Linked DNA regions of Homo sapiens. The protein of the gene in region 1 interacts with the protein of each later gene in a pairwise test. Each region holds a gene or a part of one and is shown in the gene's direction. Other genes may lie near its edges.

Region 1 (3,500 bases):
AAGTATCTATTCTTGTCCTTTGCCCACTTTTTAATGGGGTTGTTTGTGTTTTTTCTTGTAAATTTGTTAAATTCCTTATAGATGCTGGATATTAGACCTTTGTCAGATGCATAGTTTGCAAATATTTTCTCCCATTCTGTAGGCTGTTTACTTTGTTGATAGTTTCTTTTGCTGTGCGGAAGCTCTTTAGTTTCATTAGATTCCATTTGTCAACTTTTGCTTTTATTGTGATTGCTTTTGGCATCTTTATCATGAAATCTTTGCCAGTTCCTATGTCCAGAATGGTACTGCCTAGGTTGTCTTCCAGGGTTTTTACAGATTTGGGTTATACATTTAGGTCTCTAATCCATCTTGAATTGATTTTTGTATATGGTGTAAGGAAGGGATCCAGTTTCAGTCATCTGCATATAGCTAGCTAATTATCCCAGCACCATTTGTTGAATAAGGAATTCTTTCCCTATTGCTTGCTTTTGTTGAAGATCAGAGGGTTGTAGGTGTGCACCCTTATTTCTGGGCGCTCTATTCTGTTCCACTTGTCTATGTGTGTCTGTTTTTGTACCAGTACCATGCTGTTTTGGTTACTGTGGGCCTGTAGTATAGTTTGAAGTCTGGTAACATGATGCCTCCAGCTTTGTTCTTTTTGCTTAGGATTGCCTTGGCTATTCTTTTTGGTTCCATATGAATTTTTAAATAGTTTTTTTCTAGTTCTGGGAATGTCATTGGTAGTTTGATAGGAATGGCATTGAATCTATAAATTGCTTTGGGCAGTATGGCCATTTTCACGATATTGATTGTTCCTATCCATGAGCATGGAATGTGTTTCCATTTGTTTATGTCATCTCTAATTTCTTCGAGCAGTATTTTGTAATTCTCATTGTACAGATCTTTCACCTCCCTGGGTAGCCATATTCCTAGGTATTTTATTCTTTTTGTGGCTATTGTGAATGGGATTGCATTCCTGATTTGGCTGTTGGCCTGGCTGTTGTTAGTGTATAGGAATGCTAGTGATTTTTGTATGCTGATTTTGTATCCTGAAACTTTATCAAAGTTGTTTATCAGCTGAAGGAGCTTTTGGGTCGAGACTATGGGGTTTTTACTTTTTAGAATTCTATTTTATGTCCTGTGATTGCATATTAGCTATAATTGTTTGTTTTGTTATGTAACTAGTTATTTTACATCTTTATGTCTACCTTCAAATGATTGTATGCTGCTTCATGTACAGGATAAGAACCTTATAGTAGTATACTCCCATTTGTCCCCTCCTACCCTTTATGCTGTTGTTGTCATCCATTTTACTTTTACATATGTTATAAACCCCACAATATATTGTTTTTGTTTTTGTTTAAACAGTTATCTTTTAAGGATAATGATAATAATGCCTTAGTCTCCTACAGAAGCACTTGCCAATCCACTCCCTGCCAACTTCTCTGGCCTCATATTCGACTGTCCTCACTGCACCCATTGATCCAGGCATACTAACCTCTAACAACTTATCACTGTGCCCTTCCTCCCTTCCTTCTCTTACTCCCCCTACCCACTTTCCTATTGAGTTAAGTTGATCCTTTTCTGAACTTCCATTGTAATACTTTGTGTCCACATTGTTATTTTAGCTTTTGTCAACCTCTAGTGCAGGGATCCCCAACCCATGGGCCGTGGATCAGCACTGGTCCATGGCCTGTTAGGAACGGGGCTGCACAGCAGGAGGTGAGCAGCGGGCTAGTGAGCATTATCGCCTGAGCTCCGTCTCCTGTCGGATCAGCGGTGGCATTAGATTCTCACAGGAGCGTGAACCCTGTTGTGAATTGCGCATGTGAGGAATCTAGGTTGTATGTTCCTTATGAGGGTCTAATGCCTGATAATCTGAGGTGAAACAGTTTCATCCTGAAACCATCCCCCTACCTCTGCCCTGGTCCATGGAACAGTTGTCTTCCATGAAACCAGTCCCTGGTGCCGAAAAGGTTGGGGACCTCTGCTCTAGTATAATGGCGATTTTTCTGTGTGGTATCTCTCACAGGTCATGGGCTGCTCATGGACAGGAACTTCTTCCAATTATACCCAGAATCCCAGCAATAGAAGGCTCTCAGTACATAAGGAGTATAGAAAAGTTCAATGGAAGTATTCTGAGAATTTGGTTCAATGACGTTAATGCCTTTTGTTGTCTCACTTGGACTCATATATAGCTATGTATATTCTTGTCATTCCAGTGGAATGGCACTTTGGGAAAACATGAAGATGTGGTATCTTTGTGATAGAAGTGAGCTTCTTAACACTAATGGGAATTAAATATGTCACGCACTTAATAGATATTGACAAAAAATTAAAACTGATAAGGGGATAAGGAATTTGAAATAAGTCTTTTTCCATTTCATTGATGTGGTTCTAGGTTTTGTCTTCTGTAAAAAGAGTTTCCTTTGGAGATGCATTAGGAGACAATCTTTAGTTTTCATTAGTTTTAAGTAGCAGTAATTCATGAAACAGTAGCCCAGGGTTTTCAGAGTTTAATTAATGTTTTGAATATGATTAATTTATCACCCAGGGAAAATGTTAACTACCTAGGAAAAATGACAGAATATAACTTCTTATGAGGCCCTTTACTTAAAACCTCATTAAGTAGCAAATCAGAATTTTGTTTTAAAAAATTGAAATTTATTAGAAGACTATGCATCTCTCTATATTGAAAGTCATAATTGATATAATCCTATAAAATACAAAATTCCTGGAAAACTGGAATCACAAATATATATTTGGAAAACTCGTGTTAAGTTTTATGGAAGCACAAGTCTATGGCAGTAGTTGCTACTTTGGCCTTTTTCTTTCAGTGAAAGATGTCATGTATATCTGCCCATTTATGGGAGCAGTGAGTGGAACCCTGACAGTGACGGACTTTAAGCTGTACTTCAAAAATGTCGAGAGGGTGAGTTTTTTAAAGTGTGTTTTATTTTAAAAGAAACACTTTTAAAAGAACACTAAAAGAAGAAAGTAAAAAGTCCCCTGAAATCCCATTACCCTGAGATAACCACAGGTTGGATTTTGAGATGCACACATTTGCAAACAGATGTTTGTATCTTGAAAACAAAGGCTGTTAAAGTACCGCTTAAACCTGGAGGGGAAATTCCATTGTTGTCTCAATATATATTTCACAAGGAATGCTGTCAATCAGACTTCAATTTAGCTGGGACAAAGAGGAAATGCGAAGTAAACAAACATGTTTTGTAACCCAGCAAAGACTTAAAATATGAAAACTGTTGACTGACACTAATAGGCATTGATCTTAATTTTTGAACCTAGGACCCGCATTTTATCCTTGATGTTCCCCTTGGAGTGATCAGCAGAGTGGAGAAGATTGGAGCACAGAGCCATGGAGACAATTCCTGTGGTATAGAGATAGTGTGCAAGGTATAATAGAAACGCCAAGTGAAAACTAAAAGAGGGCAATCAGCTCTGAACTTTTTCTCCCTCAGTCTCTTCATGGTCTTTGGACAGTAGAATAATTTGTACTG
Region 2 (3,500 bases), on another chromosome or scaffold:
AGCCAGCCCTTAGGGGTCCCTTCTTCCTTCGTGCTCAAGTCACTACTGCCTGCCCACCCCATTCATTTGGCATTTATGTGACTGTAACTGTGTTCTGTGTGCCCCTCTAGTCTTCAGACCTCTTGAGGAGAGGCTACTGTGTCTTTGTATCCTACAGAGCACTCAGCACAGTTGAAAAGCTCTTCAGGGGGCTGGGCGTGGTGGCTCACGCCTGTAATCCTAGCACTTTGGGAGGCCGAGGTGGGCAGATCACCTGAGGTCAGGGGTTCGAGACCAGCCTGGCCAACATGGCGAAACCCTGTCTCTACTAAAAATACAAAAATTAGCTGGGTGTGGTGGCTCATGCCTATAATCCCAGCTACTCGAGAGGCTGAGGCAGAAGAATCACTTGAACCCAGGAGGTGGAGGTTGCAGTGAGCTGAGATCACACCACCACATTCCAACCTGGGTGACAAGAGCAAAAAAAGAAAAAGAAATCTCAAAAAGAAAAAGAAAAGTTTTTCAGGGGACTCTTGCAATTGTGGCATCATGATCCTTCACACCTGCACTTACTGGACGCCTCCTGTGTACACAGCCCCTTTCCTCCTGTGCACAAGGTGGCCTGTGTTAGGACAGAGGCTGCAGCTCCCCCTGACCCTGCCTCTCCCCTGTTTGCATCTACAGGTACCCAGACAGCCATTGTCTTCATCAAGCAGCCGTCCTCCCAGGATGCACTGCAGGGGCGCCGGGCGCTGCTTCGCTGTGAGGTTGAGGCTCCGGGCCCGGTACATGTGTACTGGCTGCTCGATGGGGCCCCTGTCCAGGACACGGAGCGGCGTTTCGCCCAGGGCAGCAGCCTGAGCTTTGCAGCTGTGGACCGGCTGCAGGACTCTGGCACCTTCCAGTGTGTGGCTCGGGATGATGTCACTGGAGAAGAAGCCCGCAGTGCCAACGCCTCCTTCAACATCAAATGTGAGAGCCAGGGGGGCTGTGCCCAGTCCCCCTGTCAGACCCTCAATGACTGAGGCCTGGGGGATCCCTCCCTTACCTCAGCTTCTCCCATTTCCAGTTAAACGGGCCAGGCAGAATGCATTTATCATCAGCTTTTTTTGCTCATGTGGATAAGAGGAAATTAAAAGTTATATTTTTTCCAAAATTTTTTCCTTCAAGTCTGGGACCCATTTATCTGCTGCATGCTTGTGCAAATGGAAAGGGCGGCCGAGCCCTTGGCCAAGTGTCAGACTTGACCTGCCAGGGACCAGGCAGGCACTTAGTATCTGGTAACTGTAGCCCCAGCCTCAGCCTCCAGGGCTTCCTTGTGTCTGTTGGCACAGAGCCTCGAGGTTCCACGGCTTCCTGCTTGTCCTCCTTGCCCTCTGCCTTCCCGCCTTTGCCCTGCTCTGCCCCTCACTGCAACCGTGGCCTCTGCTACAGGGATTGAGGCAGGTCCTGTGGTCCTGAAGCATCCAGCCTCGGAAGCTGAGATCCAGCCACAGACCCAGGTCACACTTCGTTGCCACATTGATGGGCACCCTCGGTAAGGAGTCAGGGAGGTGGGGATGAAGAGGGTTATTCCGGACAGGGATGTCTCCCCAAATCTTGGACTCTATGCGGATGTTACCTCGCTCCATTCTGTGACCACTCGTTCCACCACCACAGTGCTCTTCACCCTGCCCTCCCCCAGATATTGCCCTATGCCGGCCCCTGGTGGCCTGAAGAGTGAGCCACATTGTGTGTAGAGCTGGGAGATCTAATATCAACTTGATTCTGCCCCTGAATCAGAATTACTGTGTGCCCTTTTGCAAGTCCCTTCCCTTCCTCAGGCCGTTTCTCCATGTATAAACTGAAAGGTCTAGCCCTGACCCTCTGATACTGTATCCTCTCCACTGGCCACTGAGTACCCCTCCCCACCACTGCTGACTGTGTCTGCCCTGCAGGCCCACCTACCAATGGTTCCGAGATGGGACCCCCCTTTCTGATGGTCAGAGCAACCACACAGTCAGCAGCAAGGAGCGGAACCTGACGCTCCGGCCAGCTGGTCCTGAGCATAGTGGGCTGTATTCCTGCTGCGCCCACAGTGCTTTTGGCCAGGCTTGCAGCAGCCAGAACTTCACCTTGAGCATTGCTGGTGAGCCTGGGGTGGGGGCGGAAGGGATGAGGTGAGCACAGGAGGGCCTCACCACCCAGGCTGCATGCTCCCCCATCTTTCCCTCTCCAGATGAAAGCTTTGCCAGGGTGGTGCTGGCACCCCAGGACGTGGTAGTAGCGAGGTATGAGGAGGCCATGTTCCATTGCCAGTTCTCAGCCCAGCCACCCCCGAGCCTGCAGTGGCTCTTTGAGGATGAGACTCCCATCACTAACCGCAGTCGGTAAGGCATCTGGCTGGGAGCATTCCAGTACCATGTACCACACACATGCATTCTGTAGAAGGGGGTGCGATTTGTATCACAGACATCACAGATTTGTACATGTATTATTTCAAATTTCCAAGAGACACAGTTGAATGTTTTGCTTTTACAAGATGAGTCTGACACAGGGAAGAGTCTCTGGGAAGAGCCCTTTTCCAGTTTGCACAAAGGCACTCTGAGCTAGTGATGGTTCCACTTCTCTCTCCCCACCACCCACATGGGTCTTCTGGGATGGAAGGGTAGAGACCCCAGGGATGAGAGAGACACAAGAGACCTAGGTAGTCAGGTGGTCATAGTCTAGATAGCGTGATCCAGTGTGGCAAAGACATCACACACACACACACACACACACACACACACACACACACACACACACACTTTTTAGAGGAAGCAAACACCTCTAGAAGGTTCCAGCCCTACTGCAGGGACTTCTGTTCTTGCCTGGACCCTAGGAGAACATAGAACACCTTTGCAGTGTCAGGCACGACCATGGTCCTTGGGGGTGTGGCTTCCTAGGCTAGGGGCTTGGATGCCACTTGGCTTCAGCCCTGAGGACATCATCAGTAGCCTGCCTGGTATGGCTGAGGGGTATCTGACCCTGGAGCTGGGTGCCCTATCAACGTGGCCCTGTGGGAAGGTGGCTTCCCTGTCTTGACAGTTGCACATGGTGGTTATTCTGTGTATTAGTCCATTTTAATGCTGCTGATAAAGACATACCCGAGACTGAGCAGTTTACAAAAGAAAGAGGTTTAATTGGACTTACAGTTCCACATGGCTGGGCAAGCCTCACAATCATGGCAGAAGGCAAGGAAGACCAAGTCACGTCTTACATGGATGGCAGCAGGCAAAGGAGAGAGAGCTTCTGCAGGGGAATGCCTCATTTTAAAACCATCAGATCTCGTGAGACTTGTTCACTATCATGAGAACAGCACGGGAAAGACTTGCCCCCATGATTCAGTTACCTCCCACTGGGTCCCTCCCACAACATGTGGGAATTATGGGAGCTACAATTTAAGATGAGATTTGAGTGGGGACACAGCCAAACCATATCACTCTCTCTCGCACCTGCATTGCCATTTGCCTCATTGCTTCCCGAGCTGATCTCCTGTAGTT
Region 3 (3,500 bases), on another chromosome or scaffold:
ATTGCTAACATGATTTGCCCTAAAAATGTTCCTGGCCTGTATGTTTAAATTAGCAAGTGTGGGTTGCTTGGAATATACTTCTGCACTTTTAACTCAGCCAAACCGTGTGGGTCCAAAGCACTGTCCTCACTGCAACGCCAGGGCCTCCTGCCCCGGGCCTGCCACACTGGCGCAGATAGCCTCAGCGCCCCCACACTCACTCTGCTTGACTTCTCATTCTGTACTTCCTGACTCTTCTATCCTCTCTGAGCCACGTTTGGTCCAAAGGCACCCAGGCCTGATTGCAGCTGTTTTGGGGAAAGAGTCGCGGGTCATCAGTGGTAGGGATGCTGCAGTGAACACACACTTTGTCAGTCCTGGGTTTCCAGAGAACAAAGCCACGTCTTTGGGTACCTGGTTCAGGGTCTGAGAAAGTGGCAAGTCAATTAGGAACTGCAGCTGCTCATCCTTGGTCTCATTAGGACTTAACTTCTCTGATTGGCTGTCCCAGTTCCCAGCATACAACTCGAACACATTGATGGGGTCCGGGGTCCTTCTTAGGGGAAAGGCCTTGGAAAGGAAGAAAATTAATTAGACAATAGTCCTACAGAGCCCTCCTCCTGCTGTCTCTACTCTCTCCACAAACACATACACATTTTCTCTCCAGATCCCATAAGGAGCAAGACACATCCTGTGCAGATGGCCGGTGCCCCAGCACCTCAGTTTAGTTGGATCCTCTCCATGGGAGCGGGAGGCTCTGCTGCAGATTAGAGTCAGTGGGTGATCTCTGATGCCTGCGCTCCTGGGAGAGTGTGGTGGGGCAAAGGGGATACAGGGCACTGACCTGTTAAGGGGTGACAATGAGGATCCAAGGCAGAAAGTCACCTCATGTCACTGACAAGCCCTTCTAAGTTCAGGTCACCCTCGGACTAGAGAGTCGAACATCACATTCACGGTCACAGAAGAGACTGCCTGGCCCATGTGCTGGTACAGAGACCTCTGAGGACAGGGCCAGGGGGTCCTGTGCAAACTGAAAGAGCCATCATGAGACAGAGAGGAACCTGGAGATGCCATCCTGTTCCAGCGGGAGATGGTTTTGAAAATATGGCTACCTCTCACTGCAAAAGCTTTCTTTGCCATTAAAGTAGGACTTCTCAAAGGTTTTTACCGAAACACACAGTGGAAAATAGAGAATATACTTTACGCCATGACTTAGTGTACACATACATGTATTTCACACAACTGACATAGGTTACAGGGAATAACTTTCACCCTTCGTAAAAGCGGTGCACTTGGATTTTTCTTTTCAGTTTTATTTCATTAAATAAAAAAGTGGCCGGGCACGGTGGCTCACGCCTGTAATCCTAGCACTTTCGGAGGCTGAGGCGGGCAAATCACGAGGTCAGGAGTTCAAGACCAGCCTGACCAACATGGTGAAACCCCATCTCTACTAAAAACACAAAAAATTAGCTGGGCATGGTGGCGGGTGCCTGTAATCCCAGCTACTTGGGAGGCTGAGGCAGAAGAATCACTTAAACCCGAGAGGTGGAAGTTGCAGATCGCGCCACTGCACTCCAGCCCCAGAGACAGAGCAAGACTCTGTCTCAAAAAAAAAAAAAAAAAAAAAAAAAAAAAAAAAAAAAGTTAGAGCCCTTAGTAGGAACCGTGCATTCTGACATCCTCTAGTCTGTTCTTACCATCTTTTAAAATGCTAGCTGCAGACTCTCAGAATTAATTAGACACCCTACTAATTGGCAAGCACTGATCCAGGGCACAAGATTGTCCCTCAGTTATCTCTTCAGGAGTTGTTTAAGGAATCAGCTTGCATCCAAGCAGCCTGGTTTTATAGCATCTTTTAGAGAAGAGTTTAGAATGAAGATTTTCTAGGTGGGTGGCTTTTTGAAAACAGTAAATTTGAAGTTGCTCTCAACAGACTTGTGGTTTTGAAATAAGCATAGTAATGACTGCGTTGTGTGCAGTGTTGTGTTGGAAAGTGTTGTGTGACATTCAGGGTGTGGACAGATAACAGGATGTGAGTTGTTGGATCTCTTTGTGCCTAGAATTGCACTTTCAGAAATAAGCAGTACATTCTCAGGGTGAGGAGAAGGAGAAAGAGAAATCCTATAAAGATCAGCAGAGACATCCTATCAGTGGATTAGCCCAAGAGAAGTGACAGCTTTGGCATTCTTAGACAATCTTTCCCTGCCTGGAGGTCAAGGCCTACCTACATTTTTGACAGCCATCCATATAATCCCAAATCTGTAATGATGGGATTGAACAGGGTTGAAGCCTCAGTTCTTCCTCCAAATCCAAGACATCCTGTACTGTAACTGCTTGCCCTCTCTGTTCCTCCATTTAAATATCGGCCACAGGAACCCAGAGGAGGGGAGGTGATGTGATGAGCACAGTAGTGCCTGCACACAATCAGGACAGCGTGGCTGCTCCCGCCCACTGACGCCGCCTTTTACCAGACCCCTGGGCCCATTCACGCTGAGGGCCACTTTATAGGCTCTGTGTGCACTCTCATTCCCCAGTGTGGGGTCTCAAATCACTCTTCAGGTACAGAAACAGGCCCGGAAAGGCATGAGTGATACCACAAAGTGATCACGCACAAGGCTGTTCCCACACAGCTGCCCATCCCGTTCCTGGGTGGGTTCCCAGGGAATGACTGACAGCGGCACTGCCACCTGCTGGCCAAACCTGGCACAGCACTTACACGCTTTCCTTGCCTGGAGGTCAAGGCCAGCATTCTTGACAGCCCTCTGTATAATCACCAAATAATCGCCAAATCTGTAATGATGGGATTGAACTGCATTCGTGGGTGGAGTTAGGGCTCCTCAGGGACTAAATGCCAGCTTCTGGGTTTTCTGCCACGCTGGAGGACACAGCCTCTGCTGGGTGTGCAGGCAAAGGGGCCTGTCTGCCTCCACTGTCCCCAAGCTCAATTGTTGTAAGCCAGCCTTTCACAGGTGAAAATGGGGTAGTGAGCCCAGGGCAGGCTGATGCATTCCTTAGAGCCCTGCCTTGGCCAGCTTCTTCACCCTTACCAGTGTCCAGCCATGCACCCCAGGTGCAGCAGATCTCTCCCCAACACCCCCACTTTGTTCCCGAACTCACCCCATCTTCTAACCACCAAACTGCATCCTCTGACATCTTGCCCTTAAAAAACAAACCGCCCTACCAAAGGGGGCTCTGGATCTTCGGGTTTTTCTGCTCCCCCTTATCACAGAACCTTCCAGAGTTGTAACGCGGCTCTCCTCCCACTTTGCTGCTCTCACCCTCTTGGCTTTCCGCATTTTACCAACTGTCTCCTCCAGCTGCAGTTCACAGAGCTGAGCTGACTCCCTCTTCCGGGACAGCCTTCTCCCCAGACAGATCTGGGACATTGGGAAGCCTGGGGCTCGGTACTGCACTTCTTGGCCTGCGCTCTCCACACATGGCGGGTCCTTAGGATCTGCTTTTGCATCTGAAGTCTGAACCCTCTTGTCCTGGAAGAAGCACCTAGCGGAGTGAGCTAGGGG

What was found.
Region 2: the proteins of MTMR1 (region 1) and PTK7 interact in a two-hybrid assay, tested with the Homo sapiens proteins (one study listed by BioGRID and IntAct).
Region 3: the proteins of MTMR1 (region 1) and ROR2 interact in a two-hybrid assay, tested with the Homo sapiens proteins (one study listed by BioGRID and IntAct).

What each region holds. Positions count from the first base shown.
Region 1 is NC_000023.11:150,724,396-150,727,895, forward strand, and holds part of MTMR1 (phosphatidylinositol-3-phosphate phosphatase MTMR1), read left to right. Parts: intron 1-2,819; coding exon 2,820-2,914; intron 2,915-3,288; coding exon 3,289-3,396; intron 3,397-3,500. UniProt on the Homo sapiens protein: Lipid phosphatase that specifically dephosphorylates the D-3 position of phosphatidylinositol 3-phosphate, generating phosphatidylinositol. Could also dephosphorylate phosphatidylinositol 3,5-bisphosphate to produce phosphatidylinositol 5-phosphate.
Region 2 is NC_000006.12:43,128,314-43,131,813, forward strand, and holds part of PTK7 (inactive tyrosine-protein kinase 7 isoform a precursor), read left to right. Parts: intron 1-663; coding exon 664-951; intron 952-1,413; coding exon 1,414-1,516; intron 1,517-1,916; coding exon 1,917-2,107; intron 2,108-2,197; coding exon 2,198-2,348; intron 2,349-3,500. UniProt on the Homo sapiens protein: Inactive tyrosine kinase involved in Wnt signaling pathway. Component of both the non-canonical (also known as the Wnt/planar cell polarity signaling) and the canonical Wnt signaling pathway.
Region 3 is NC_000009.12:91,733,729-91,737,228, reverse strand, and holds part of ROR2 (tyrosine-protein kinase transmembrane receptor ROR2 isoform 1 precursor), read left to right. Parts: intron 1-3,500. UniProt on the Homo sapiens protein: Tyrosine-protein kinase receptor which may be involved in the early formation of the chondrocytes. It seems to be required for cartilage and growth plate development. Phosphorylates YWHAB, leading to induction of osteogenesis and bone formation.